Linked DNA regions of Homo sapiens: region 2 is linked to region 1. The links come from fine-mapping of genetic effects on gene expression. A gene starts in region 1. The other region holds a variant in brackets. All regions are shown on one strand. Distances are from middle to middle.

The links. PIP is the estimated chance that this variant, and not a neighbour inherited with it, causes the effect. A credible set is the group of variants that fine-mapping cannot tell apart.
Region 2: its variant is the best candidate, but not a certain one, in a credible set for the expression of TMEM231 in whole blood (TOPMed, PIP 0.60).

The regions. Positions count from the first base shown.
Region 1 is chr16:75,548,057-75,563,309 of GRCh38, reverse strand. It overlaps TMEM231 (transmembrane protein 231), which reads left to right and starts at 7,058. Exons shown (of 7, transcript NM_001077418.3): 1 at 7,058-7,239; 2 at 7,337-7,506. The coding sequence starts at 7,101. RefSeq lists silencers at 2,945-3,239, 6,888-6,997, 7,288-7,367 and enhancers at 6,628-6,737, 6,768-6,847, 12,962-13,021, 13,062-13,131.
Region 2 is chr16:75,764,844-75,780,096 of GRCh38, reverse strand. The region is part of intron 2 of LOC105371348 (a long non-coding RNA gene); the gene reads right to left. Among named protein-coding and RNA genes, the nearest start is that of CPHXL, 46 kb to the right of the region's middle. The variant T/A (reference allele first, on the strand shown) is at 7,056.

The DNA of each region.
Region 1 (15,253 bases):
TGAAGAATGAAGATGGTTGTTCACCATCTCCTAGTCAGTGAACCAGTGGAGGAGTTAGAAATTGGACTCAACACCCCTGCTTCCCTTTACAGAGCTGGTCATTGCATCCTAGTCCAAAATATATGTATATTGTCTTGCATGTGAAAGAGCTGAGAACACTTCTTAGGGGAAAATTTCACTGCACACCAATTCATAGACATGTCTTTTGATGGTCTCAATGATGTGCAATGCATTTTGGTCTTCCATCCTTACCTACTTTCTTGGTGTGTTTTCCCAGTTCACCATTCTAATTGACTTATTTCATCCACCTTGATGATATGTACCACCTTCTTTACATATTGGGTCATTGTATTTAGCTATGGAATGTTCTAAGGACACTGGATGCCTTCCTTGAGGGAGTGGTTAGTTAAGGACGTAAGTCAGGAGGAGAAATAGGATAATGAATATATGCAACGTAATTACACATTAACAAATCTATAAAACACAGAGAATGAATTTCAAATGTTGGAGAGGTATGTGAACATGGATACTGAGGCATTGCTAGGGCAATAGGGGCCAGCACAAAGCCAAGTGAGAATTAGCAAGGAAGACTTCACAGAGAATGTGAATCTTCTGTTGTAGAGAGAAGGGTACATTTTCATTGGGTAAACTTTTCCTTTCCAGATAAAAACAAAGGCTGGGGTTGGAAGAGGGAACAGAAAAGCAGTATAGATAAGTAAATAAAATGTTGGAAAGCTTTGAAGCAAACATTCAGAAGTTCTAACCTAATTCAGGAGACCCTGAATAAGAGCTCCTATAAAGGAGAGAAGAACATGATTAAAATGTGCAATTTGGGGCTGGGTGCAGTGGCTCATGCCTGTAATCCCAGCACTCTGGGAGGCCGAGGCAGGTGGATCACCTCAGGCCAGGAGTTCTAGACCAGACTGGCCAACATGGTGAAACCCCGTCTTTACTGAAAATACAAAAATTAGCCAGGCATGGTGGCACGCACCTGTGGTCCCAGCTACTCAGGAGGCTGCAGGCATGAGAATCGCCTGAGCCCAGGAGGTGGAGGTTGCAGTGAGCCAAGATAGTGCCACTGCACTCCAGCCTGAGCGACAGGGTGAGACTCCATCTCAAGAAAAAAAAAATGTGGCCAGGTGCGGTGGCTCACGCCTGTAATCCCAGCACTTTAGGAGGCCAAGGCAGGCGGATCATGAGGTCAGGAGTTCGAGACCAGCCTGACCAATAAGGTGAAACCCCGTCTCTACTAAAAATACAAAAAAAAAAAAAAAAATTCACCAGGCGTGGTGGTGAGCGCCTGTAATCCCAGCTACTCAGGAGGCTGAGGCAGGAGAATCGCTTGAACCCGGGAGGCGGAGGTTGCAGTGAGCCGAGATCGCCCCACTGCACTCCAGCCTGGGCTACAGAACAAGACTCCATCTCAAAAAAAAAAAAAAAAAAAAAGTGCAGTTTTAAGAGGATGACTCTTTTTGTCCTCAGAAATAAATTGTATGAAAAACAAGAACATTGTGGAAGTGGAAACTGAGAAGTCAGTTATCAGTCATGGGTGTATGGAAATGACACATATACACAGATCTTTAACATTTTTAAATCTATACTTTCTCTTAAAGAATTGAAATAAAACTACAAAACGAGCTTTCTCAAACCATGGAAGCAAAGAGTAAATAGTATCCATTATTACTAAATACTTTTGCAAAGTTCATGGCATCTCAGGGAAGGCTGAAGCACTTGGTACACCTAAATTCTTAGTAGTCACCTCCTTCTGTTTCAGGAGTGACTTTGGTACAGTATCTGTTTCCTTCCATTGAAAGAAGGAGCTTTGGAGGCAAACACTTCCTTCCTCACAGGATAGTGACTCTCAGGAGTCGACCCTAGATCCATCTATTCCAGAAGACCCCTGTGGTTATATAAATAAATGAAAGTCGGCTGGGCGTGGTGGCTCACGTTTGTAATCCCAGCACTTTGGGAGGCCGAGGTGGGCGAATCATGAGGTCAGGAGTTTGAGACCAGCCTGGCCAACATGGTGAAACCCCATCTCTACTAAAAATACAAAAAATTAGCTGGGCGTGGTGGCAGGTGCCTGTAATCCGAGCTACTCAGGAGGCTGAGAGAGGAGAATCGCTTGAACCTGGGAGGCTGAGGTTGCAGTGAGCCGAGATCACACCATTGCACTCCAGCCTGGGCAACAACAGTGAAACTCTCTCTCTCAAAAAAAGAAAGTCATCCACTTAAAGCATAGATATAGTGTGTCAGAATCAAACCATAGATTTAACCTTAACAATTGCTATATTTAAGAACTATGTTGAGGCTCAGTGTGGTGGTCCCAGCACTTCAGGAGGCCGAGGCAGGTGGATCTCTTAAGCCCCAGAATATGAGATCAACCTGCTAGCCTGGGCAACATGGCGAAATCCCATCTCCACCAAAAAAACAAAAACGAACAAAAACCTATGTTGAGGCCAGATACAGTGGCTCACACCCGTAATCCCAGCACTTTGGGATTACTCAAGAAGGATACTTGAGCCCAGGAGTTGGAGACCAGCCTGGGCAACATGACAAGACTTTGTCACTTAAAAACAAAATTTTTTTTTAGATGGAAGCGCCTAGGCTGGAGTGCAGTGGCACGATCTCAGCTCGCTGCAACCTCTACCTCCCGGGTTCAAGTGATTGTCCTGCCTCAGCCAAAAATTTTTTTAAAAATTAGCCGGGAATAGTGGCCTCAGCTATTCAGGAGGCTGAGGCAGGACAAGTACTTGAGCCCAGGAGGTAGACAGAGGGAGACCCTGTATAAAAACAACAACAACAACAAACTACATTGCCACCCCAGAAAAGCTTTTAATCAAGAACAAGTAGTATTGAACCTGATATTTCAAAAGCATTTTGTGGCTGATGACGTTGTCGTCTTGGACTGTAGTAAGGACCCTAGGATGGTTTTCCCAAATGGGCAGTCTTGACCTCTCTATTAAGTCTGTGATGTTAGGATGTCAGCTGTTCTCTTCATCTAAAAGCCACTTCGAGGTTGCTTTCAAAGTAGTGGGAGTAACTACTGGACTCCACCCAGCACAAACCTCACGCCATCTCCTGACACTGCAATGTGATCCTTCAGGGCTTTTTTTTTTTTTTCCCTTTCTTCAGACAGTCTCGCTCTCGCTCTGTCACCCAGGCTAGAGTGCAGTAGTGCAGTCACTGCTTACTGCAACCTCTAACTCTTGGGCTCAAGCAATCCTCCTTTCTTAGCATCCCAAAGTGTTACTGGAAAGGGGTCCCAATCCAGATCCCAAGAAAGGGTTCCTGGCTCTCAACACAGGAAAGAATTTGGGGCAAGTCCACAGAGTAAAAAAAAATGGCTACTCCATAGACAGAGCAGCAGTATGGGCTACTCGACTGAGTAAATTTATAGTTATTTCTTGATCCATATGGTAAACAAAGGGTAGATTATTCCTGACTTTTCCAGGAAAGGGGCAGAGATTTCCCCAGAACTGAGGGTCCCTCCCCTTTTTAGACTATATAGGGTAACTTCCGGACATTGCCGTGGCATTTGTAAATTGTCATGGCACCAGTGGGAGTATCGTTTAGCATGCCAATGCATTACAATGAGCAGATCATGAGCAGTGAGGACGACCAGAGGTCACACTCAAGGCCATCTTGGTTTTGGTGGCTTTTGACTGGCTTTTTTTCTTTTTTCTTTCTTTTTTTTTTTTTTCTCTGAGACAGAGTTTCGTTCTTATCACCCAGGCTGGAGTGCAATGGCGTGATCTCGGCTCACTACAACCTCCGCCTCCCGGGTTCAACTGATTCTCCCTCCTCAGCCTCCAGAGTAGCTGAGACTACAGGTGCCCGCCACCATGCCCAGCTAATTTTTGTATTTTTAGTAGAGACAGGGTTCCAGGCATGAGCCACCATGCCCGGCCTTGGCTGGCTTCTTTTTAACTGCATCCTGTTTTATCCACAGGGTCTCTGTAACCTGTATCTTGTGCCATCCTTCTAGCTCATACTGTGACTAAGAATGCCTTACCTCCTGGGAAGACAGCTCAGTAGGTCCCAGCCTTATTTTACTTAGCCCCTATTCGAGATGGAGTTGCTTTGGTTCAAACACCTCTGACAAAAGTGCTAAGATGAGCCACTTCACCCAGCCTCAACAGCCTCTTGACTGGTCTCCCTGACTTCTGTTTTTCCTCACCCCTCACTCAATGACCCCATCCTGGTATACTGTAAACCTAAAATAAAATTCTAAGCTCCCAACCATCTGAATGGAACCCTTGTCTCAGCCAAGGGCATTCCAAAGTTAACCTGAAAAACTAGTCTGGCCATCATGGGAAGTGGGGAGTCAGACGTAACTCATTATACCCTCCTCTTTTTGGAATTCAGACCCAGCTGACCAGTATTAGCATCAACACATAGATCTTAAGACTGATATTAATAGAACAGACTCTTAAAGTCTGATAAGAAACATTTACAATCTGTTCTCTCTGAAGCCTGGAGGCTTCATCTGCATGATAAAACATTAGACTCCACAACCCCTTATTGTTTTTTGTTTTTGTTTTTTTTTTGAAATGGAGTCTCACTTTGTCACCCAGGCTGAAGTGCAGTGGTATGATCTCGGCTCACTGCAGCTGCTGCCTCCCGGGTTAAAGCAATTCTCCTGCCTCAGCCTCCCAAGTAGCTGGGATTACAGGTGGACACCGCCAGATGCAGCTAATGTTTTTTTTTTTAATACATATTTTTGGTAGAGACAGGGTTTCACCATGTTGGCCAGGCTGGTCTTGAACTCCTGACCTCAAGTGATCTGCCTGCCTTGGCCTCCCAAAGTGTTGGGATTACAGGCGTGAGCCACTGTGCCCCGCCCACAAACCCACACATTCCTTTCTATTGATTCCAGGTCTTTAGATAATAACCAGTTGACAATTGGAAAAATCTCTGAATCTGCCAATTCTGTGGTCTGGAAGCCCCACCCCACCTCCACTTGTCTCATCTTTCAGTACTGAACCAATGTACATCTTACACGTATTGATTGATGTCTTATGTCTCCCTAAATGTATAAACTCAAGTTATACCCTATCCACCTTGGGCGTATGTCATCAGGACCTCCTGAGGCTGTGTCACAGGCATGTCCTTAACCTTGGCAAAATAAATTTCTACGTTGATTGAGACTTGTCTCAGATACATTTTGGTTTACACTACTGACATGCTGTCATTAGAGTGACTTTTCCAAATCACAAAGCTTATCATGTCTTTCCACTTAAATGTCATTTTACTGACCCTTTAACAAATTTACTTATATTTAAATATTTTGTATTTATTTTTTTAGAGACAAGGTCTCCTTCTGTCTCCCAGCCTGGAGTGCAGTAGTGCATTCATGGCTCACTGCAGCCTCCTGGGCTCAAGCCTTCCTCCTGCCCAGGCCTCCCGAGTAGCTGGACCTACAGGCATGAGCCACTGTGCTCAGCCACTCAGGACCTTTTTGTTGTTGTTGTTGTTGTTTGAGATGGAGTCTCGCTGCCACCCAGGCTGGAGTCCAATGTGTGATCTCCGCTCACTGTAATCTGTGCCTCCCGGGTTCAAGCGATTCTCCTGCCTCAGCCTCCAGAGTAGCTGGGATTACAGGTGCCCATCACCATGCCTGGCTAATTTTTGTATTTTTAGTAGAGATGAGGGTTCACCATGTTGGCCAGGCTGGTCTTGAACCCCTGACCTCAGGTGATCCGCCCACCTTGGCCTCCCAAAGTGTTGGGATTACAGGCGTGAGCCACCGTGCCCAGCCATTCAGGGCCATTTGATGAAGAAATTGGCTGTGGACCATAGATTTTTTTAAAAAGTCCTTCTACCATGTTAGAAATATTGGTTGGGGGTGGTGGCGGGGGGGTGTAGGCATTCAATTAAGCAATAAGCCAGTGATCTTTGGGGAGGACCATATATTCCTGTAAAACTCGCGGCTGAGCTGTACCCAACACAGGGTTAACGAAGTGCATCAGAGCTTTGTAGTAATTCCACTCTATCCGTGGAAGAGCCAGGGGATTTGTGTTTCCGTGTCTGTCTTGCATGGGAGCATAGTGGAAGCAACAGAAAATCTGGGGGCAAAAGCACCTGGCTTTGATCTCAGCCCAGGACCAGGTCCAGGACCACGGCCAGGCTTGTGACTGACTGGACTTCAGTAGGAACCACACTGGGGGTTAACAGATGACACAAAAGCAGGTGTTCGTTCTGTGCGGGAGACGCGCTAGGGGAGAAGAAAAGGCACACACACAGTACCTTTAAGGGTAAGCAAGCTTTATCCCACGTAAATGGCAATGCAGATATTATAATAAGCAAATTAATATAATAAGCAGATTGATATAATAAGCAAATTGCAATGGGAAGAGGAGAAGGAAAAAGACATATATATATATATATTTACACTCACCAGACTATGGAGGATTCACCTCCAGACTGGGAAGCAACGACCTGGGCTCCAGAGCCGGCCACTCGTCAGTGCACAGACGAGGAGAGGTCTCATGAAGCTTTTTGGCGTGGTCTGGGACCCTAGATCTTTTTGTAACATGTTGTCTAGCATGAGGCCCAGTCACGAGGGCCCTTTGCGACTGGGCTCAAGGAACACAAAAAGGTCAACTTGTTTTTGCGATTGTTGTTTTTCAATAACTGACGTATAGGAGTAGACTGAAATAGAGATTTCTCCGAAACAGCGCTGGATGAACGCCTCAAGGGGCTCCCACAACCTGTTTAGGGACTTGGTGACCATTGTTTGTGTCCATGTCAGTTGAAATTTAAATATTTAGTTCTTCCTCCTCAGTGTTCAAGTCAACTTTTATGGGCATCTTATTTTACACAAATGTTAACACAGACAACAGCCACGACTCTGGTCCACGGAAACGTTCTATCGCCGCCCAGCCTTTACGCAAACGTACACAGCTCGAAAAGCTAGGCCGACCGTCCCCGGCAGCGCCACGCCCGCTAACCCCGCCCCCGCCACTGGCTCCTTTCGGTGCGGCCTTGCTATTGGCTCCTTTCTGTGAGCCGTCGGTTGCCGTGGAGACCGAGGCGATGGCAACCAGGAGAAGCCAAACTTGGTCCCCCGGCTCGCGGAGTGCCTGCGAGCGGTGCTCATGGCGCTCTATGAGCTCTTCTCTCACCCGGTCGAGCGCAGTTACCGCGCGGGGCTCTGCTCCAAAGCCGCGCTGTTCCTGCTGCTGGCCGCTGCGCTCACGTACATCCCGCCGCTGCTGGTGGCCTTCCGGAGCCACGGTGAGCCTGCCCCGGCCGCTGTGCCACGAGGCTCCCCGGGCGCGCTCGGCCAGGGCCGGCCTCCCTAACCGCCTCCCTACCGCCCTCTTTAACTCAGGGTTTTGGCTGAAGCGGAGCAGCTACGAGGAGCAGCCGACCGTGCGCTTCCAACACCAGGTGCTGCTCGTGGCCCTGCTCGGACCCGAAAGCGACGGGTTCCTCGCCTGGAGCACGTTCCCCGCCTTCAACCGGCTGCAAGGGGATCGCCTGCGCGTCCCGCTCGTTTCGGTGCGTGGTTCCCGCCTGGGCCTGGGGCAGAGTCGGGGATAGGGTGGGGATGGGGACTGGAATGAGGATGTGGGGCGAGCGGCCCCGGCCCTGGGGAGCCCAGCTTTGATCCTAAGGACTCGCGAACCCGCAAAGGTGGCGTTTCATCTCCTAGGACCTAGGGAATCGATCTTCTGTTTCATTCTGCTTCTCCCAGATGTCCCCGGCCCCCAGAAAGTTAGCCATGCTGTCAGCGTGTGCGCCCTGACACAGAGTCCAGAAGTGTGGGGGCAGCCTGTGTCTGCCCGGGTCACACCCGCGGGCCTGGCCTGATGGAGGGTGTTTGTGAAAGTCCATTTAGGAGCCTGGAAGGCCGCGCGCTGTTAATGTAGATAACCCCATTCTGTCGCGGCGTTTCTGCATCACACCACTATAGGAACGGAAAGGGCAGCATTTTTATGCAGACCTGACCCCTGGAAACCAAGGCGCTGATTGGTTAAGCGGCCTTCCCAGAACGCGCTGTGGCCGAGTCACGCCTCCCTGGGTTTGTCCCATTGGAGACTGCGCCATCCTGAAGCTGTCGGGATGAAATGGAAGCATGTTACTGTCTGTAATTTATTTATTTATTTTTAAATTTTTTCACCAGTAGAGCGCTGAGAGGAATCTGTAATTTAGTATTTGCTTTGAGATAAGCGAATGCTTCCTTTGTAGTCACTCCTTTTCACTCATTTTCTGAAAACGTTTTCCTTTAGAAGTATGAAACTTCTGGTTTTCCTTCTTTCAAATTCGAATCTCTTCAGACATATCTAAGATGATTGCCCTACAAGCCAACCTTGTATAGCTGAGGAGAAAAGAAAATCAGACTTGTTCCCAGCAACTAAATAAAATTGTTTTTAAAAATCCGATTGGTCGTATAAATAACTGCAAAAAAAATAGTAATAGGTTGATGCAAAAGTCATTGCGGCTTTTGCCATTAAAAGTAATGACAAAAAACCGGAATTACTTTTGCACCAACCTAATATGATTCAGGTTACTTTTCTCCTATTACTTTATAAATGTTCTTATATTCTGATTACAAAAGTGCATGCTCATTCTAAAATATGATAGAGTTACAGGTAGATATAATGACAGAAATTGAAGGCTCAGTTTTGTATATGTATCAATACTTATTAATCAGCTGTATTCTTTTTGAGGTTTGCTTTGACTTTTTCACTATTAGGGACAACATTTCTTTTTTTCTTTTCTTTTTTCTTTTCTTTTCTTTTTTTTTTTTTTTTTTGAGACACAGTCTTGTTCTGTTGCCCAGGCTGGAGTGCAGTGCTGCAATTCTCTGCTCACTGCAACTCTGCCTCCTGGGTTCAAGCAATTCTCGTGCCTTAGCCTCCCGAGTAGCTGGGATTACAGGCTAATTTTTGGATTTTTAGTAGAGAAGGGGTTTCACTATGTTGGCCAGGCTGGTCTCGAACTCCTGACCTCAGGTGATCCACCCGCCTTGGTCTCCCAAACTGCTGGGATCATAGGTGTCAGCCACTGTGCCCGGCCTAGGGACAATATTTCAATGAACAAGGTTTTGACTAAATCTTATGCCTTTAAACATCAAATTTTGAGGAATTGGAATAGCAGCTCTTTGATGAAATGGTATAAGTACATAGAAAACTAAGCAAATAATTATTAACTGCAGGGAAATGAAAAGTAAGGAAAACTGAGAACCAAAATGTTATCAGAGTTGTGAATAGGATTGACATAGTCTTAATTATATGAACACTGAATGTTTACTAAAAAGAGATTTTAACTCTATTGGGGGTAATGAGAAAGGTATTGGGTATGTGATAGGGGATGGTGGGAGGAATTGGGGGAGAGAAGAAGCTAAATCATCTTTCCTTGTGGGAACTCAATAGAGAATGCCTAAAACTGAGAAACTGAGAATTTTCAATGCAAATGTTATCTCAAGACCTGGAGATACATTTCTAAATGATCAGGTAAATGAGATAAAAATATTTGCCGCCAGAAATGATAGCTCACACCTGTAATCCTAGCACTTTGGAAGGCTGAGGCAGGAGGATTGCTTGAGCCCAGGAGTTCAAGGCCAGTGTGGGCAACATAGCAAGACCCCACATTTCAAAAAAATAAAAAATTAAAAAGAAATAGAGAAGTGGTACAATTTGCCCTAGCTTTTCTTCTTTTCTTTTTTTTTTTTTTTTTTGCAACAGAGTTTCACTCTGTCAGCCAGGCTGGAATGCAGTGGCACAATCTCAGCTCACTGCAACCTCTGCCTTCTGGGTTCAAGCAATCCTCTCGCCTCAGCCTTCCAAGTAGCTGGGACTGCAGGCATGCACCACCACTCCGGGCTAACTTTTTTGTGTTTTTTAGTGGAAACAGGGTTTCACCATGTTGGCCAGGCTGGTCTAGAACTCCTCAACTCTGGTAATACACTCACCTCAGCCTTTCAAAGAGCTGGGATTACAGGTGTGATTACAGGTGTGAGCCACTGCTTTGAAGTGAACAGAGTCTGGACTGGAACTCAGTATTTCTTATGCTATATCTTAAAATCTTAGCCCTTATTGCAACAAACTACTTTTATTTTCTAACTTTGAACATAGAGCCAGACTGACGTCAGTCTATCCAGGAAACTGTCCAGAAGGCAAAGGAAACAGTGGTTGTTGATTAAGGTTGGACCAAGTGCTGGGAGGTGGCTTTGCAGTGGCTAATTGGGGGAAATGCTGAAGTCACAAACAGCCTTGCTTCTGCTTTGGTCAGCTCATCCTGGACAGCGTCTCTAAGCTCCCTACATGTTTAATGCTTTGGAAGTCTAGTTTTTGTTGTTTTTAATGAGAGAAGAGAAAAGCAGAGTGACTTTTTCCCCCTCAAGCCTCAAGGAGGCTGACATAGCTCTTGAAGGCATGTGTGGACCCAGAGAATACAGGGACTGAAGGTTATAGAAGGATTCCAGAGGATGAGTGGAGAGTACCGTGTTTCTAAGACACCTGTTTCTTCTCATCCCTGAAATCAGTGTCTTCCTGTCTGTGGTTATCAACTGTTGGCAAGGAGGCAGGTATGGCATAGTTCTCATTGCTTACACCTGTGCCGGCATCAAAACATGCAGAAGGGGCATCATTTCTGTGTAAGAGGTAGGTGTTAGAAAAATAAAAATGCAATTAAAAAGAAGGGGCATCAGCAACCTCAGAGGAAACCCCAGAGACAGTAGTAGAACATTTTTTTAACCCCTGAATTGAATGGAGAGCAAGTAAGGGAAAGTTTGAGAGGCTTTTAAAAACAGGAAAGCTCTCCATAATTTCAAAGTCTGCTTAAGGGCCCAGACCAATGGCTTTTAGTTTCTTTTATGAATTGTTTGTTTGTTTGTTTGTTTGTTTTGAGACAGGGTCTCACTCTGTCACCCAGACTGGAGTTCAGTGGCGCAATCTTGGCTCACTGCAGCCTCCGCCCCCCAGGTTCAAGAGATTCTCCTGCCTCAGCCTCCGAAGGAGCTGGATTACAGGCTCCTGCCACTACGCCTGGCTCATTTTTGTATTTTTAGTATAGATGAGGTTTTACCATGTTGGCCAGGCTGGTCTCGAACTCCTGAGCTCAAGTGATCTGCCTGCCTCGGCCTCCCAAAGTGCTGGGACTATAGGCATGAGCCACCATGCCCAGCTGAATTTTTGTTTTTTGTTTTTGTTTTTCTTTTAATGCTGTATCACCAACATGTTTGATGGCACAAAGGACAAAGTTGCATAGAAAAGTATGGGTTGTTGACTGAGTTAAAGTGTTACTCAAAAGGATGAGGATGTAAAGAAGTTTTAGGAATCCCTGAATCAATTTATTTTGCCTATATTTTTCTTTCTTTTCTTTTCTTTTTTTTTTTTGAGATGAAGTCTCACTCTGTTGCCCAGGCTGGAGTGCAGTGGCGCAATCTCTTCTCACTGCAACCTCCGCCTCCTGGGTTCAAGCGATTCTCCTGCCTCAGCCTCATGAGTAGCTGGGATTACAGGCAGGCACCACCACGGCCGGCTGATTTTTGTATTTTTAGTAGAGACGGGATTTCATCATGTTGGTCAGGCTGGTCTCGAACTCCTGACCTCAGGTGATCCACCCACCTCGGCTTCCCAAAGTGCTGGGATTACAGGCGTGAGCCACTGCCCCGACCTATTTTGCTTATATTTTTCTAAGTAAATAAACATATCTGTGTAAATATGTCTAAATCTAAAAGCTCTTTTAGTAACTTTTTAAAAAGTAAGTGATTAGAAAAGTGTCATAGTTTAATTGGAAATGTTTTTCTTTTATCAGTGGTATATAAAATAATGGTTCATTTTATAAGTAATGGTATCTTAGATTGAAATACAAGGCTGAGCACTGTGGCTCATGCCTATAATCTCAGCACTTTGGGAGGCTAGCCCCTTGAGCTCAGGAGTTCCAGACCGCCTAGGCAACATAGTGAGGCCCTACTATAAAAAATTTAAAAATTAGCCAGGGGTAGTGGTGAATGCCTATAGTCCCAGCTACTCAGGAGGCTGAGGTGGGAGGATCACTTGAGCCTGAGAGGTCAAGGCTGCAATGAGCTGTGATCGTGCCACTGCACTCTAGCCTTTTTTGACCCTGTATCAAGAAAAAAAGAAATAGAAAAAAAAAGAAATACAGGTAGAAAGGTGGAAAGGAACCACGAAGTGGCAGTTTCTGCTTTGCTAGAGACCCACAACTGGTGCCAAAGAGTATTTTTAGCTTAAAAAGAAAGGAGCACCCGGTGATGACAAGTATATGGTGAAATAGACACTGGTATAAACTAGGAAATTAACCTTTAATAAAAGAATATGGGCCGGGCGCAGTGGCTCACGCCTGTAATCCCAGCACTTTGGGAGGCCGAGGCGGATGGATCACCTGAGGTAGGGAGTTCTAGACCAGCCTGGCCAACATGGTGAAACCCCGTCTCTACTAAAAACACAAAAATTAGCCGGGTGTGATGGCAGGTTCCTGTAATCCCAGCTGTTTGGGAGGCTGAGGCACGAGAATTGCTTGAACCCGGGAGGCGGAGATTGCAGTGAGCTGAGATTGCACCACCCATACTCCAACCTGGGCAACAGAGCCAGACTGCATCTCAAAAAAAAAAAAAAAAGAATACGACTTAAATGAATGAAATGTACGCAAACAAAACAGAAACCAAACAAAATTCCAACAAACCGTCAGATGCTGGGAATTCCTGACGGGGAAAAAAGTCACACATCAGGATACTCTGGAAACAATGGCACTTGAATTTCTGGCAATTCCTGCAGTCAGGTGGTGTGCTGGTTATGAGGTATTGTCTCAGCTCCAAACCCACCCTCCTACGCTCAGCTTCCAGGTTCCTGCTGAGATGCTGGAAACCACCTTCTTCCCCTGCAGCTTCCTGTTAGGTTCTGCCAGTAGGAGGCATGATGAGCCTTGTTCTGGGAGTGCAGAAAAAAAGAAATGAAACCAGTCACCACTGCCAGGGTGAAGAACCACTGTGGATGCCACAAACAGGGACAACCAGCAAACAGGAAGGAGCAGGACGCCTCTCCTACCGGCTTCAAGGTTCCCTCTAGTGCATGCTTCCTCCAAGCTCAGAGGTCCTGGCCCCATCTGGGCCGCGGTCCCTTCTTGAAGTCTGAGGCTCAGCTCTTCGAGGCCTCTTCCCTGAACCTCTAAGTTCTATCAGTCCCACCCGCTTCCCCTTCTTCTCTAGTCCTAGGTGTGGGAAATGTTCCCTGCAGCTACTATCTCTGTGTTGCTGGGATATCCCCTTTTTACGTCTTCAGTCCTCTAATACCTATGGGACTATTTATTCCCTATGTTAAATTCCCTCTGGCCAGGTGCGGTGGCTCATGCCTGTAATCCCAGCACTTTGGGAGGCTGAGGCGGGCAGATCACCCAAGGTCAGGAGTTTGAGAATAGCCTGGCCAACACGGTGAAACCCCATCTCTACTAAAAATGCAAAAATCAGCTGGGCGTAGTGGCGCACACCTGTAATCCCAGCTAGTCAGGAAGCTGAGGCAGGAGAATCACTCGAACCTGGGAGGTGGAGGTTGCGGTGAGTGGCGATTGTGCCACTGCACTCCAGCCTGGGCAACAGAGTAAGACTTCGTCTCAAAAAAAAAACAAAAAAATTCCCTCTGACTCTGCTCAGTACATGCGTGTGGATTTCATGTGTATCTCTAAAGGGTTATCCTCCTTTAACCATGAGAAATCTTTTCAGTTAGAGTTCTTATGAGCTATTATAGAAGAGCCCTGAATCAGGAGTCAGCAAACCAAGATCCTTGTCCCACAAGGTCCTAGTCCCAATTCTGTCACTGGGTTTCATAACCTCACCCTCAATTTATCTATCCATATACAGGGCATGAGAGTACCCACATCTCTCCTGGGATATGCAGAGGAATCACGTGGGACAATGAATGGATATAAAAATTGTTCCAAAGCCTGTATATACGTTGTAGATATAAGGTGGTGGTGTGATATGTGAATTCTCTTGGCTAAGTACCAGTTGGAGGTTAGATAGCGACCTAGAATTTGTGTTAAAGAAGTAGTAGCCTTTGAATGCCTGCCTTTGTTAGCTATTGCACATATGTTAAACTTACTTTCAACTAAATGGAATTAAATAATTGATTTATTCAGTGGTCCAAGTGATAACAGAGGAGCACAGCCAAACTTCGCCAGCCCCAGGAGGGTGAGAGTCCAGCTTGGTGACAGGTCATTTGTGGGAGACACATCCTTTCCATCGAAACTTCTCTCCCCCCTCTCTCCACCCTGCTCTCCTTCTCACCCACTCTGCCAGATGCATTGATCCCACGGGTACCCAGAGCACATGTACCTGATTAGCCTGGATCCCTCCTCTCTGAGATGTTCCTGCACCCCATCACTTCACTTCCTTCAGGACTCCAACAAGTTGGGTCATCCTGAATATTTAAAAATTTCTGTTAAATTCTTTTTGGGTTTTTTTGTTGTTTGTTTGAGATAGAGTCTTGCTCTGTCACCAGGCTGGAGTGCAGAGGCACGATCTCGGCTCACTGCAACCTCCACCTTCTGGGTTCAAGCGATTCTCCTGCCTCAGCCTCCCTAGTAGCTGGGATTACAGGTGCACGCCACCATGCCTAGCTAATTTTTGTATTTTTAATAGAGGCAGGGTATCGCCATGTTGCCCAGGCTGCTCTCGAACTCCTGAGCCCAAGCAATCCACCCACCTGGGCCTCCCAAAGTGCTGGGATTATAGGCATAAGCCACCACGCCTGGCCAATTTCTGTTAAATTTTACCTTCATTATTCTCTAATTTTAGCCTGCTTCATTTCTGTCAGCGGCACTTGTCACTGTTTTCTACATTGTCCATCGGGAATGTATGCCCCATTAGGATGGGGACTTTGTCTATTTTGTTTACCATTATAGTCTCATTATTTGAAATAGTGCCTGGCGTGTTTCCAAAAAGTACGTAACAGATCAATGAGTGAATTTAACAAGTAGACACTATTGATGGTGTTGTGCCAAATCTGTCCCCCGCGAACTTGGAATGGAAGGATGTGCACAGGCAAGTATACAGACGTAGATGCCTGGTGCTGCTGTTTTTCAGGAAGATTTGTCCAACCTGCTGTCTTCATTTGGAATTTTTAAAATAATTTTAGACATTTTGGTCCTAAAAAGAGGACCAGATTTGAAGTCACCTGATCTCAAATCCTGTCTTCACCATTACTTGCTGTACCTCTGATAAATGCCCTAATCTCACTCATCCTTGATTTTGTCATCTGTGTAATGGGAAAATACCTGTTCTGCC
Region 2 (15,253 bases), 220 kb before region 1:
CATCTCTAGGGAAGGGGCACTAACTTTGGTGTCATCTGGTCATTGCTATAGAAAGGGGCAGTAACTCCCGGGTGTTGCCATGGCAATGGTAAATTCATATGGCACATTAGTGGGTGAATCTGATTAGAAAGCTGCTTCCACCCAAGCCCTGTTTTAGCTAGTCCTCAATCTAGTCCGGTGTTCAAGTCCCACCTCTGGAGTCAAGTCCTGCCTCCTACCTTAAGATGATATCTCATTGTGGTTTTGATTTCAATTTCTCTAATGATCAATGATGGTTATTTTTAATATACTCATTGGTCATTTTTATGTCTTCTTTTCAGAAATGTCTGTTCAGATCTTTTTCTTATTTTTTAATTGGATTTTGTATTCTTGCTATTGAGTTTTTCTAGTTCCTTATATATTCTGGTTGTTAATCCTAGTCAGATGCATAGTTTGCAAATATTTTCCCCCATTCTGTGGGTTATCTCTTCGTTGTGTTGACTGTTTCTTTTGCTGCTTTTTAGTTTGATGTAGTCCCATTTGTCTATTTTTGCTTTTGTTGCCTGTGCTTTTGAAGTCTTACACAAAAAAATATTTGCCCAGATCAATGTCCTGGAGCATTTCCTCAAAGTTTTCTTCTGGTAGTTTTATAGTTTTGGGTCTTATATTGAGGTCTTCAATCCATTTTGATTTTATTTCTGTATAGAGTGACAGACAGGGGTCTGCTTTCATTCTTCTGCATATGGCTATCCAGTTTTCCCAAGACCATTTATTGAGAAGACTGTCCTTTCCCCACTATATCTTCTTTGTTGAAAATGAGTTGATTATAGGCCAGGTGCGGTGTCTCACACCTGTAATCCCAGCACTTTGAGAGGCCAAGGCAGATGGATCGCATGAGGCCAGGAGTTCAAGACAAGCCTGGCCAACATGACAAAACACCATGTCTACTAATGATACAAAAATTAGCCGGGCATGGTGTTACAAGCCTGTAGTCCCAGCTACTCAGGAGACTGAGGCACAAGAATCACATGAACCCACAAGGCAGAGGTTGTAGTGAGCCGAGATCACCCCTCTGCACTCCAGTCTGGGCAACAGAATGAGACTGTCTCATTTAAAAAAAGAAAAAAAAAAGGAAAGAAAGAGAAAGAAAGAAAGAAAGAAAGAAAGAAAGAAAGAAAGAAAGAAAGAAAGAAAGAAAAAAAATGAGTTGGCTGTAAATATATGGGGTTATATCTGAATTCTCTATTCTGTTCCATTCTTCCATGTGTCTGTTTTTATTCCAGTACCAAGATGTTTTTATTAAGATAGCTTTCTAGTATATTTTGAAGTCAGATAATATGATGCCTCTAGCTTTGTTCTTTTTGATCAGGATTGCTTTGGCTATTCGGGGTCTTTTGTAGTTCTATGTATATTTTAGCAGTTTTTTTCTATTTCTGTGAAGAATGTCGTTGATATTTTCATAGAGATTGCATTGAATCTGTAAATGGCTTTGGGTAGTATTGCCATGTTAACAATATTAATTCTTCCAATCCATGAGCATGAACTCTCCTTCCTTTTTTGTGTCCTCTTCAATTTTTCTATCACTCTTTTATACTTTTTCTTGTATAGATCTTTCACTTGACTAAATTGATTCCTAGGTATTTTATATTCTTTGTAGCTATTGTAAATGGAATTGTTTTCTTATTTTCTTTTTCAGATTACTCACTGTTGTCATACATAAATGCTCCTGGTTTTGTATGATTTTGTATCCTGCAGCTATGCTGAATGCATTTATCAGTTCTAACACTTTTTCAGTGGAGTCTTTTGGTTTTTTCTAAATATAAGATCATGTCATCTGTGAATAAGGCTAATTTGACTTCTTCTTTTCTAATTTGGATGCCCTCGATTTTTTTCTCTTGCCTGATTGCTCTAGCCAGGACTTCCAGTATTATGGTGAATTAAAGTGGTGAAAGTAAGCATCCCTGTCTTCTTCCAGATCTTAAAGGAAAGGCTTTCAATTTTTCCCCATTCAGTACATTAGCTGTGGGTCTGTCACATATGCCCTTGATTATTTTGAGGTATGTTCCTTCTATAATCAGTTTTTTTGAGGACTTTTGTCATGAAAAATATATAGATTTTTTTTTCGTTTTTCCTTTTCTTTTCCTTTATTTTTATTTTTATTTTTTTATTTTGTTTTATTTTTTTTTTTGAGACAGGGTCTGGCTCTATCGCCCAGGCTGGAGTGCAGTGGTACGATCACAGCTCACTACAGCTTCAACTTCCTGGGCTCATGCAATCATCCCACCTCAGCCTCCCAAGTAGCTGGGACTGCAGGCCCTTGCCACCACACTCGGCTAATTCTTGTCTTTTTTGTAGAGACAAGGTTTCACTGTATTGCCCAGGCTGGTTTGGAACTCCTGGGCTCAAGCAATCTGCCCTCCTCGGCCTCCCAAAATGCTGGGATTACAGGTGTGAGCCACTGTGCCTGGTGGGATGTAGAATTTTATCAAATGCTTTTTTGACATCTATTGAAGTGATCATATGGGTTTTGTTCTTGGTTCTATTAATGTGAAGTATCATGTTTATTGATTTGCATATGTTGAGCCATACTTACATCCATAGGATGAATCCCATTTGGTCATGATGAATGATCTTTTTAATGTGTGGTTGAATTTGGTTTGCTAGTATTTTGTTGAGAATGTTTATATCTACATTCATCAGTGATATTGGCCTGTAGTTTTCTTTTTTTGTCATGTCCTTGTCTGGTTTTGGTATCAGGTTAATGTCCACCTCATAGAATGAGTTTGGAAGTGTTCTCTCCACTTCAATTTTTTTGAAGAGTTTGAGTAGAAGTGGTATTAGTTACTCTTTAAATGTGTGGTAGAATTCAGCAGCGAAGACATCAGGTACTGGGCTTTTCTTTTATAGGAGACTCTTTTTTTTTTTTTTTTTTTTTTTTGAGACGGAGTCTCACTCTGTCGCCCAGGCTGGAGTGCAGTGGCACGATCTCAGCTCACTGCCAGCTCCACCTCCCGGGTTCACGCCATTCTCCTGCCTCAGCCTCCTGAGTAGCTGGGACTACAGACGCCCGCCACCACGCCCGGCTAATTTATTTTTTGTATTTTTAGTAGAGACAGGTTTTCACCGTGTTAGCCAGGATGGTCTCGATCTCCTGACCTTGTGATCTGCCTGTCTCGGCCTCCCAAAGTGCTGGAATTACAGGCGTGAGTCACCACGCCTGGCCAATAGGAGACTTTTTATTATGGCTTCGATCTCATTACTTATCATTGGTTTGTTAAGGTTTTCCATTTCTTCATGGTTCAGTCTTGGTGGGTCAGGAATTTATCCATTTCTTTTAGATTTTTCCAATTTGTTCGCATATCATTCAGAATTGTCTCTAATGATTCTTTATATTTCTGTAGCCTCAGTTGTTATGTCTCCTTTTGTTGTTCCTAGTTTTATTTATTTGGGTCTTCTCTCTTTTTTTCTTAGTCTAGCTAAATGTTTGTCAATTTTATGTATCTTTTAAAACTTTCTTTCCAACTTTCCATTTTGTTGATTTTCTATATTTTGGGGGTTTTTTGTGAGGGTTATTTGTCTTAGAAACTGAGTCTCACTGTCACTGTGTTACTAGGTCTTTATGGCCCTATGAAATTGGGTCTCACTATGTCTAAGAAACTGGGTCTCACTATGTCACTATGTTATCCTGCCAGTGAATCAAGGTGGTGTGGAAGCTGGTGGTCCATCTTGACCTCACTTTTTCCAGTGCAGAAACCCTGAATCAAGGGGAAATTTCCTGCATGGCTTGGTGGTAGACAGATTAGAGGGAAGGGTGTTGTGGATATGGAAGTCCAATTATCTTACTGTATACTCAGATTTTTTCCACTTCTCCATGGCCCTGGGAACTGTCTCATTCCCATATATGAATTCTGGGATATTGCTGGTGATAATCTCAGCACTGTATATTTATTTTTTGTTTTCTGGGTAGGGATGTGAAGCCAGCTTGCTTCTACACTGCCATTTTGGAACCAGAACTGATTAGGTTTTGAAATCATTTGTGTATTTTTCATTTAATGTTATATAATTTTATCAAGTACTACAAGTATACCAAAAAATATACAAATAATACACAGTCCTGTGATAATAGATCTGCCTGCTCCCAGTTCTCTTCATCAGAAACATACCCCATATTATAAATATTATTATATTTATAATAAAAATATTGTATATATTATTTAATATATATAACATTTATATTTTATATTATATTATTTATAGATTGAGAAATTTATATAACTATTGCCTTACCAGTTTGATAAATAGAAGATATACCTCACAGTCATTATTCTGTTAACTTCAGACAATATATCTTTATTCCCCATTATGCAAAATTAAGATATTAACAACCCTATCGTTTTCTTTAATTCAGCAACTCCCTCCTCAACCTCCCAGCTTCTCTCAAGTAGAATTTTGCTTGTCTATCAACACAGTAAATGATATTTGCATTAAGTAGCTATAATTGAATCTTGTTTGCTTATACACAGGTAAAAAAATTAGTTTTGATTGAAAAACATCACTTCAACCTCATTGAAACCACAAGAAACATACTTAATTTTAAAAATAACTATGTAAGTATAATTTTCTCAAGAGCCACAGTGTGCTATAATTAGATTTCCTTCTCAGAAGTCCAACACACTCCCTTGATGGGGAACGTTCTTAGAATCTAATCAAATGGAGCTTCTACTCTTCCTCTCCATAGATTATTCAAAATTATGCCACATTATACTATATTCTTATTTTGATAATAAACTAAGTAAGCAGTTTCTTTGTTTAAATTTCTGATATTTTTATTTCTTCATTTTGAGAGAAAAATACATAGACCTTCATTAATTTACTACCAAGATCTTCCAGATTCTCATTAATTCTGTTCATTACAAGGAGTCTCCTCTCCTCCAATTCCTTTAGGATCTTATCATCTAGTTGGAGAAAGAGAAATAAAACTGGACAGAGTATTGTGTTTAAATGTCAGCACTTTGTTTTACAAATGATGCTGACAAACTTGGATGAATCTAGGATAAAGTTAGCCAGATATTGAACTGCCCAAAAACTGAATTATATGAATATTAATTTTTAAAAGCAAATATATTTGGCCTAGAGAAAGCAAGACTTAAGATCATGATATCTGTTTACAGATCTCAGAAAGTATGCTATTTTAAATAGGAACTATACAATTTTTGCATAGCTTCATGAAAGAAAACAAAGACCAACATTTGAAAATTTCAGGGAGGCATGTATTATTACACTATCTCTAACTTTGCAAAAATAACTCCATCTGAAAGTGAGCTAGTGTGTTTCTGATCACTGGATGCTTTCAAGTAGATTCCCATTACCCATGGGCCTGGAATATTCCACAGGATTTAGGCTTTGGATAGAAGTTACAACTAATATCTTCCACATTTCATTAAATGCCTGTATCTGTGAGTCTAAATGGATCTAGCACAGACTTACGCATAATTGGTTGTATTATTTGTCAAATGCACATGTGAATTCTTGTTCTGTGAGTGGATTGCCAGTTCTGGGGAACATTGGCTTGTTAATTATTTCATGTATAATCCAAGCTATTTGTTATATATCTTTGTATTTGCTTTCCCTTTGTCCCTCATCTCTCCATTTAGAGTCATTTAGGGGAAATTTTCTTGCCGGGCAAATGAGTACATCCCAGGGTCAAAATGGGAAATGAAAGAGACTTAAAATACTTTTATTTCAGCTCTAGTGAGACTGAAAAGCAACTGACTCATGCAAAATTTGATAATTACATGTGGTTTCTTTATTTAACAGCTATCATTATGCCATTATGTATCAGACTATAATCTACTCAGAGTTTTCTTTCCTAATATTTGGAACTGATAAGTGAAAATGACAGCATTCCATGAGGAGGTATTTCACATTCTCCTTATTTCAGCAGAAGCATCTCTTCCATATTCTACAATTCCTTCAAGTTCTAATGAATTGTTTATGTATAGAGTGAAATAATATATTTTGTCCAATAATTGTATAGCTGATAATTTTATAAGTAGTAGTTTTTGTGAGTTGTTAACCCCCCACCATGGATGACAACAGCAGCAACAAAACTCTACGTACTCAGACATAAAATGTAGCCAAATTTTATTTAGAAACTTTTGCCTGGGCCTGGATTGGTGGCTCATGCCTGTAATTCCAACACTTTGGGAGGCCAAAGCAGGAGGATCACTTGAGGTCAGGAGTTCAAAACCAGCCTGGGCAACAAAGTGAGAACCCCATCTCTACCAAAAAAAAATAATAAATTTAATTTAATTTTTTAAAAATGTCTGGGTGTGGTGGCACACACCTGTAATCCCAGTACTTAGGAAGGCCAAGGTGGGACAATTGAGCTCAGGAGTTTGAGACCAGCCTGGACAACATAGCAAAACCCCATCTGTATGAAAAAAAACAAATGTTAGCTGGGCATGGTGGCATGTGCCAGTGGTTCCAGCTACTCAAGAGGCTGAGATGGGAGGATCACTTGAGCCCAGAAGGTCAAGGCTGTAGTCAGCCATGATAGGACCACTGCACTCCTCCAGCGTGGGCAACAGAATAAGACCCTGTCTCAGAAAAAAAAATTAAAAAGGAAGAAACTTTTGCATTTTAATAATTTTAGTGTTTAATTTATAATTCTTTTTAATTATCCATGACTTTTCAATGTAAAACAATATATTTTCATTATGCAATTATTTTTAATCTACTATAAATAATTAGAATAGGTTAAAGACAAAAATCTACTTAACATTAAAATACTAAAAATTTAAATATTGGAAGGTATTATAAAACTTGTGTAAAGTGCTCTAAAGCTTAAGAGTAATACACTTACAAACAAATAACTTGATAGTAGCAGCATGTAGATTTTCAGATACAAGATTTCTTTCTTTTTTATGGTTTCTCTCCTCTTTTTCAAGGATTATAATAACATATATGTTAGACCTTTCATTCTCTCTTTGGTCTTTTATCTTCCATTACTTTGCCTCTTCCTTTCTCTATTGGTATATTTCTTAGATTTATCCTCCAAATTGCTAATTTTCTCA[T/A]TTCAGCTACATCTAATCTGTTGTTAAATTCATCCATTGAATTTTTAATATTCAGTTACTGCATATTTCAGTTCTAGACTTGGTATTCAATCCTTTTTATTGGATTGAATAAAAAATCCAATTACTGGAATAAAAATTCCAGTTCCTGTTTAAATGTTCTATTTGATCATTTAATTTCTTGAACATTTTACATTATTTGTAAAGTCTTTACATTGTTTGTTAAAGACTATTAAAGACTTTACATTATTTGTAGTCTTTGTCTAGCTGTGATCTTCAATATTCATCTCTCCAGTTTTGTGAAACTGGCAAATGTTCTGCTCGGATGCTGGCTACTGCTTTCTGCTCTGGTTTTCAGCTGAAATCTCCAGCTCCTGCTTTCTCTATCAGCAAATGCGTTGAAGATATAAGTTATGCCAAATATTGAGCTCAAATCCTAGGATTACCTTCTTTCTGGGAATTTGTTTCATCAAATCTTTACTGCTTTGGTAGCTCTGCTATCCCATCAAAAACTCATAGTTCTTCCTTCTTTTATAGTTGTTTTCAGTGGAAGGGCTGCTCCAACACTATATAGCCATGTTTCTTTCTTTCTTTCTTTCAGAAGAAGAAGAAGAGGAGGAGGAAGAAGAAGAGGAGGAGAAGGAGAAGAAGATAGTGACAAGGATAGCAAATGCAAACCTAAGAGACAAAGAAATTCAACTACTAGAAGGACCACAGGCAAAATTGTGATATGGGATTATCTTCCTCTAATGTCATTTTACTTCCCTTTTTTTCACCATTACTTACATCTGTCATTTTCTTTCTACTGGGACCCAATGTCTTGTACATTCTAACTTCTTGGAAGTCTAAATCAAACTAGGAATCAGGAAGAAGATGATCATAGACAGCAAAAAATTACACATATATTGCATTATTTTACTCATCAGGAAAAGGCCTGTGAAATAAGTATTTATGAAATCACAGGAAGAGCTGAAGTAGAAGGACATCTACAGGCTCTTCTTAGTAGTCATCAAAATATACCTGGTAAGCAGCTACCTACCTAGAGATAAGATACCTCCTACCTTACAGTTCACTGGGATTCTATTAGAATTTATTTTTCACTCTGCATTACCTTTTTTGGTAATCTACTATATATCAGTGATATAGAAATTAACTGTATTCTTTTTAACCCCAAGAGTTTTCTCTTTGACTCAAAAGATATATGGCCTCTTGTGGTCTCCAATCAAAGCTTCTATTGGATATTTTATTTAGTGTAAGATTTCTTTCTACATATTCCCATTAATGCTCCCATTCACTCTCCATTTCCTGATCAGCACCTTTTTTTAACCACTGGATAGTTTATGTAAGTAAGACAGTGTTCTACACTCTACAAAAATAAAGTTAATTGAAACTTTGTATATTTTAAACTTGTTTTACTTCCTTTGGAATCTAATACATAACCCATATTCTGGAGGATAATGAATCAATTTATTTTGATTTGGTTCTCTGGTTGCAGTAATAATGTAAATTCAGGGGGGAAATGTAAATAAAAATTGAAAGCAACAAAAACAAATTTTCTGAATTATAGTAAAAATGCAGAATTAAATATGTCTTAAATGTTTAAACATCTTAGTGTATCTCAGTTGGAAGAAAAACAACCTCTGTGAGAACAGAAAGAAGATGACTAAAGAGCAGTGTGGTCTGAGAAGGATTCTAAGGTTGTTTTTTATCTTTAAAAAGAGGGGTTGGCAAAATATGATCCTTGGGCCAAATCCAGTCTGTGACTTTTCTATACATAATGTTTTATTGAAACACAGCCATTTATTTATATACTTACAATGGCTATTTTTGTACTACAATGGCAGTGTTGAGTAGCTGTGACAAACACAATCTGAAGCACAATACCTAAAGCATTTACAATTGGTACCTTTCTAGGAAAGATTTGCAGACCCCTGCTGAAGAAAATCTTGATGGTGGTAACATCAGCAAAAATGGCAGAGCAGGGACCCTCAAAAATTCACCCTTCCATAAAAGCAATGAAAAAATTATTTAAATGGTCAGAATTACCTTTTTCAGATCTCCAGAAATGAATCAAAAGATTTTGTGTGACTGAAGTGGATGTAGAAATTTAAAAAAAAAAAAGAATTAAAAGCTTCCCATGACCTGGGGAGAGTTTACTCAAGAAAAATGGCTGGATGGCTGTAAGAAAAGTTAGCTTTGTGACATTTTAACTTTCCCTGGTCCCACCCCCCACTCTCTAGCTCAGAAAAAGCCTTGAAAAATACTCATCTGCATTGCTGGTGCTGCCTAGCAGTCATCAGTGGGACCAGAATAGAGATGAAGCTCTTTCAAAGTATAATTCCCAAAATATTATCTCTTTTTTTTTTTTATTGAGACACAGTCTTGCTCTGTCGCCCAGGCTGGAGTGCAGTGGCACGATCTTGGCTCACTGCAAGGTCTGCCTCCCAGGTTCACGCCATTCTCCTGCCTCAGCCTCCCGAGCAACTGGGACTACAGATGCCTGCCAGCACACCCAGCCAGCTTTTTGTACCTTTAGTAGAGACAGGGTTTCACCATGTTAGCCAGGATGGTCTCGATCCCCTGACCTCGTGATCCACCTGCCTTGGCCTCCCAAAGTGCTGGGACCACAGGCATGAGCCACTGCACCCAGCCAATATTATCATTTCTTATTTGTCTGGTGGTTCTCTTGAAAAACTCATTAAGAGGCTGCCTTGGAGCTCACTCACTTCAGAGGATTTCTGTCAGGTGATGTTATTTTTGGAGACAATTACAGGCAAGTGTTTTAACTTTGTGGCTGCCTGAGGAGATTAACAACAGCTGAGGCAAACAAAGGACTAACCAAAAACCTTGAAAATAAAATAGAAGTTTGAAAATAAGATGTCTAGAAGGACATCAGAAGGCTCTGACAAAATCTCAGGGATCTAAATGACCATGTGTACTCCCAGGATAGTACACAAGCTCAGGGAAGACCTGGAAAGGCCCTCAGCTCTCATCTCTGCTTACCTTGAGGATCTATGTAGGCAGTAAGAAAAGGCTTAGATGGAGTTACAAGCTGCCTAAGTTTTGAGGACATGACCCAACATGCACAGAGAGCCCTTCAGCAAATGAAAGATTTATTGATTCCAGACCTCTAAGGAAACCTGTCTAATTACTAGCTAACCACTAAGCTAACTGAGTAGTGGCATCAATGCCCATACATGACAAAGAATACAAACTTTACTGAATTGCCTTAGAAATGTAAGTAAGAGCCGGGCGCGGTGGCTCATGCCTGTAATCCCAGCACTTTGGGAGGCCGAGGTGGGTGGATCACAATGTCATGAGATCGAGACCTTCCTGGCTAACATGGTGAAACCCTGTCTCTACTAAAAATACAAAAAAATTAGCTGGGCATGGTGGTGGGCACCTGTAGTCCCAGCTACTCAGGAGGCTGAGGCAGGAGAATGGCGTGAACCCGGGAGGCGGAGCTTGCAGTGAGCCAAGATCGCACCACCGCACTCCAGCCTGGGCAACAGAGCAAGACTCTGTCTCAAAAAAAAAAGAAACGTAAGTACGCAAACAGGTAACAATAACCAATAAGCAACAATAAAAACAAGCCATGGACATGTAGGAAAATCTGATTTCCAAACTTGCCACATAATACCTATTAAAATGTCCAGGTTTCAATAATGTAAAAAATTATAAGTCATGCAAAGAAATAAAGTACTGCCAACACACATACATAAAAATAAACAATCAATAGAATTTGTCCTAAAGGAAGCCCAGATATTGGACTTACTAGAAAAGACTTTAAATCATTTAGTCTAAATATGCCCAAAGACCAAAAGGAGAGTGTGCCTAAAGAAGTATGAGAACAATGTCTAACCAAACAGAAAACATCAATAAAGAGATGGAAATTATAAAATTCAACTTTAAAATAAAAGTTATAAAATTGAAAAGCTTAATAACAGAAAAGAAAAATTCACTACAGGTTCTCAGTAACAGATATGAAAAGACATAAAAAATCAACAAATTTCAAAATTGGTCAATTGAAATTATCCAGTCTGAGGAACAGAAAAGAAAAAGAACAAAGAAAAATGAACAGAGTTTCAGAGACCTGTGGGAAATTACTGAAAGTACCAATATATATGTAATGGGAGACCCAGAAGGAGAGGAGAGAAATGTCAAGAACCAATATTTGAAGAAATAATGCTTGTAAACTTCCCAAATTTGTTGAAAAATATTGGTTTGCACACATGAACTTCAAGTGTAATAAACTAAAAAGATTCATACCTCAATACAACATAATCAACCTCTTAAAGAATGAAGATGAAAAAACTTGGTATCAGCAAGTAAGACATGATTCATATACAATGGCTTCTCAGTAATATTAATAGCTGTTTCCCATTAGAAATCAAGGAAAAGAGAACATAAGACAATAGGATGACATATTCAAAGCAGTGAAAGTAAAAGACTGTCAATCAAGGAGTCTATATAGAGCAATACTATACTCCAAAATTGAAGGGGAAATTAAGACATCTCCAGATTTTTTTTAAAAAACCAAGAGAATTCATTGCTAGCACAGCTGTCCTGCAAGAAATACTAAAGGAGTTCTTTTAGGCCTAGATGAAAGTTATTTGGCAGTAATTCAAACCCAAATGAAGAAATAAAGAGTACTGGTAAATGTTAACTATATGGTTAAATATAAAAGACAGCATAAATGATTTTTGTTTATAGTTATTTTCTTTTCTTCTATCTGATTTAAAAGACAACTACATAAACCAGTAATTATAAGTCTATGTTGATGGGTACACAAGCAATAAAGATCTAATTTGTAAAAATAACAGCATAAAGAAGGCAGGTAGGCTGGGCATGGTAGCTCATGCCTGTAATCTCAGCACTTTGGGAGACTGAAGCAGGAGGATCACTTGAGCCCAGGAATTCAAGACCAGCCTGGGCAATACAGCAAGACCCCATCTCTTAAAAACATATATAAGAATAAATTGTAAAAAGAAAAGGAAGAAAACAGAGTTACATTGGAGCAAACTTTTGTATACTACTAAAATTAAGTTGGTATTATATTGACTAGATTGTTATAAATTAAAATATTGGGCTGGGCATGGTGGCTCATCCCTGTAATCCCAGCACTTTGGGAGGCCGAGGCAGGAGGGTCACTTGAGGCAAGGAGTTTGAGACCAGCCTGGGCAACACAGGGAGACCTCGTCTCTACAAAAATTTTTGAAAATTAGCTAGCCATGGTGGCGTATGCCTATAGTCCCATCTACTTGCAGCAGAAGTGGGAAGATCACTGAGCCCAGGAGCCTGAGGTTGCAATGAGCCATGATCCTGCCACTGCACTCCAGCCTCATTGACAGAGCAAGACACTGTCTCTTTAAAACTTTAAAATATTAATTATAATACCATGGGCAACCACTAATAAAATAACTAAAATTATATATTTTAAGAGAAATGAAAGGTAATTAAAATGTTACACTATAAAATATCTATTTAACACAAAAGCATTCAAGAATCAAGGAATTGAGGAATACAATGGACATAATACATATAGAAAACAAATAGCACAATAGCAAAAAATAATTCTATCTTATCAGTAATTATATTAAAGTAAGTGGATCAAACTGTCAAACTAGAAGGAAGAGATTTGGAGAATGGATTTTTTTAAACACAGCACAATTATATGCTATTTACAATAGACACTTAAGATTTAAAGACACAAATAAATGGAACATAAAAGGATGGAAAAGATACACCAGCAATAACCAGAAGAGCTGGAGTAGCTATATTAATGCCAGGCAAAATTGACAAAATATTTTAAGATAAAAATTATTATTAGGGCAAAGAAGGATATTTTATAATTATAAAAGTGTCAGTTAATCAAGAAGATATAAAAATAATTAAAGTGTATGTACCTAACAACACAGCCCCAAAATGCATGAAGCAAAAATACACCGAATTAAAGGAAGAGACTATTCAAACTTAATAGTTGGACGCTTCAATAAAAAGGAGAATAGAAAAACAATCTGCCAGGGTCATGATAGTGCCAGCTCTCAAATCTGGGTCTAGGGTAAAAGAGAAATAAAACTAAAACCTGTCCGAAAAAAATTCAATCACAGTGAACCTGACTGGGAAAGGAGTAGAAGAGAGGGAAGAGCCAGTATCCAGGCAGCTGGGGAACCCAAAACAATTCCCCTTAGGGCTACTCCCTCCCTGGTATCTCCTGATGTCTGACCTGACCCTCCCCTCCATTAAGAATAGATGTCACTTTCCTCCGTTCTCCTCCACTCTCCTCCACTCACTGCTACTTCTCCCACTCCACATCAACAAACTGAGTCCCAAAAGCTTCTTAAATATCAGCCCTATGGCGCTCAGAGCTCGGAAATGCTGAAAGTCCTTCAGTACCAGATGCCAACTTAGAGAGGACAAAGGAGTAGGAAAGACTGAGCAGTGACCCCTACATCCATGTGCCACTATCCTATAGCACATTTGAGACTATTCTGAAGAGCAAGTTAAACTCACATAAAATAGAAATTTTTATCCTAAAAAATATTTCATATGAAACATTTATGGAACTGAAAAAGTACTATACTTCAATCTGGAGCAAAATGACTTTGGCTCTCACTCTGAAAATAAATGTTTAAATCATACTTGATGGAACAAAGTCAGCTGAAACTATGCACATTGGATTCACCAGGAGACATGTGTACACAGTGGGCTGCCTCTCCTACATAAAAAGGTCTTCATGGATATACAATGGGTCCTCATGAAACTGATTTTGCCACAGATTTTGGGGAACTGAGAGCTTTTTTCTTCCTCCAGGAGGGCACAACTTCCTTCTATTTTCCAGTTTTTGTGCTCTACCTCTTTAATTTTACTTAAAAAGAATGACCCTGAAAAACACATTAGTAATTACTAGATGCCAGAAAATGATCCTTCTAGCATAAAATTGGAACATGGAACTATTTTATCAGTGTTAACTAGACCTGAATTATCAAATTTCAAACAATATTATAATACCAAAAGCTGATTTTAGATTATATTACAGCTCATTTCATAGAGCACCAAGGAAGTGGAAGAAAATATAAATGTGCTTCTTAACCTGTGTGACAAACCTACCTCAATGATTCAAGTGAAAGTTGTGGATTCACATGTTCGAGGCACATAAAAAAATAATCTTGTATGTTTTAATATCTAACTCAAGGACTATCATCCAGCATCTCTCATGCTGTGCTCATTCACACACTACAGAAAGGTAACTCCTCTTTGGCAGAGCTATGAAGTATATCTAAATTAAACAGGCTAATCAAGTGACTGGATTATGTGTAAACCTCCTCAAATAAAATAGTATAAAAAAATATATCATGGTAGAGTTTATTATTGTCACATTATCATAGTAACCACTAGGAATTTAGTCAGTTAAAAATATGTCAAAACCCAGCCTACAAAATGGGAAAAAATATTTGCAAACTATGCATCCGACAAAGGTCTAATATCCAGCATCTATAAGGAACTTAAACAAATTTACAAGAAAAATACCCCATTAAAAAGTGGGCAATGAACATAAACAGACACTTTTCAAAAGAGGACTTACTGCAGCCAACAAGCATATGAAAAAATGCTCCACATCACTAATCATTAGAGAAATGGCAATCAAAACCACAATGAGATACCATCTCACACCAGTTGAAAGGGCTTTTAATAAAAAGTCAAAAAATAACAGATGCTGGCAAGGTTGCAGAGAAAGGGGAATGCTGATACACTGCTGGTGGGAATGTAAATTAATTCAGCCATTGTGCAAAGCAATGTGGTGATTCCCCAAGGAATTTAAAAGAGAATTACCAATTGACCCAACAACCCCATTATTGAGTACATACCCAAAGAAATAGAAATCATTCTACCATAAAGACACATGCACACGTATGTTTATCGCAACACTATTCGCAATAGCAAAGACATGGAATCAACCTAAATGCCAATCAACAGTACACTGGATAAAGAAAATGTGGTACATATACACCATGGGATACCACACATTCATAAAAAAGAACAAGATCACATCCTTTGCAGCAACAAGGATGGAGCTGGAGGCCATCATCCTAAACAAACTAATACAGGAACAGAAAACCAAATGCCACATGTTCTCACTTACAAGTGAGAATTAACCAAGGAGAACACATGGGCACAAAGTGGGGAACAACAGACACATG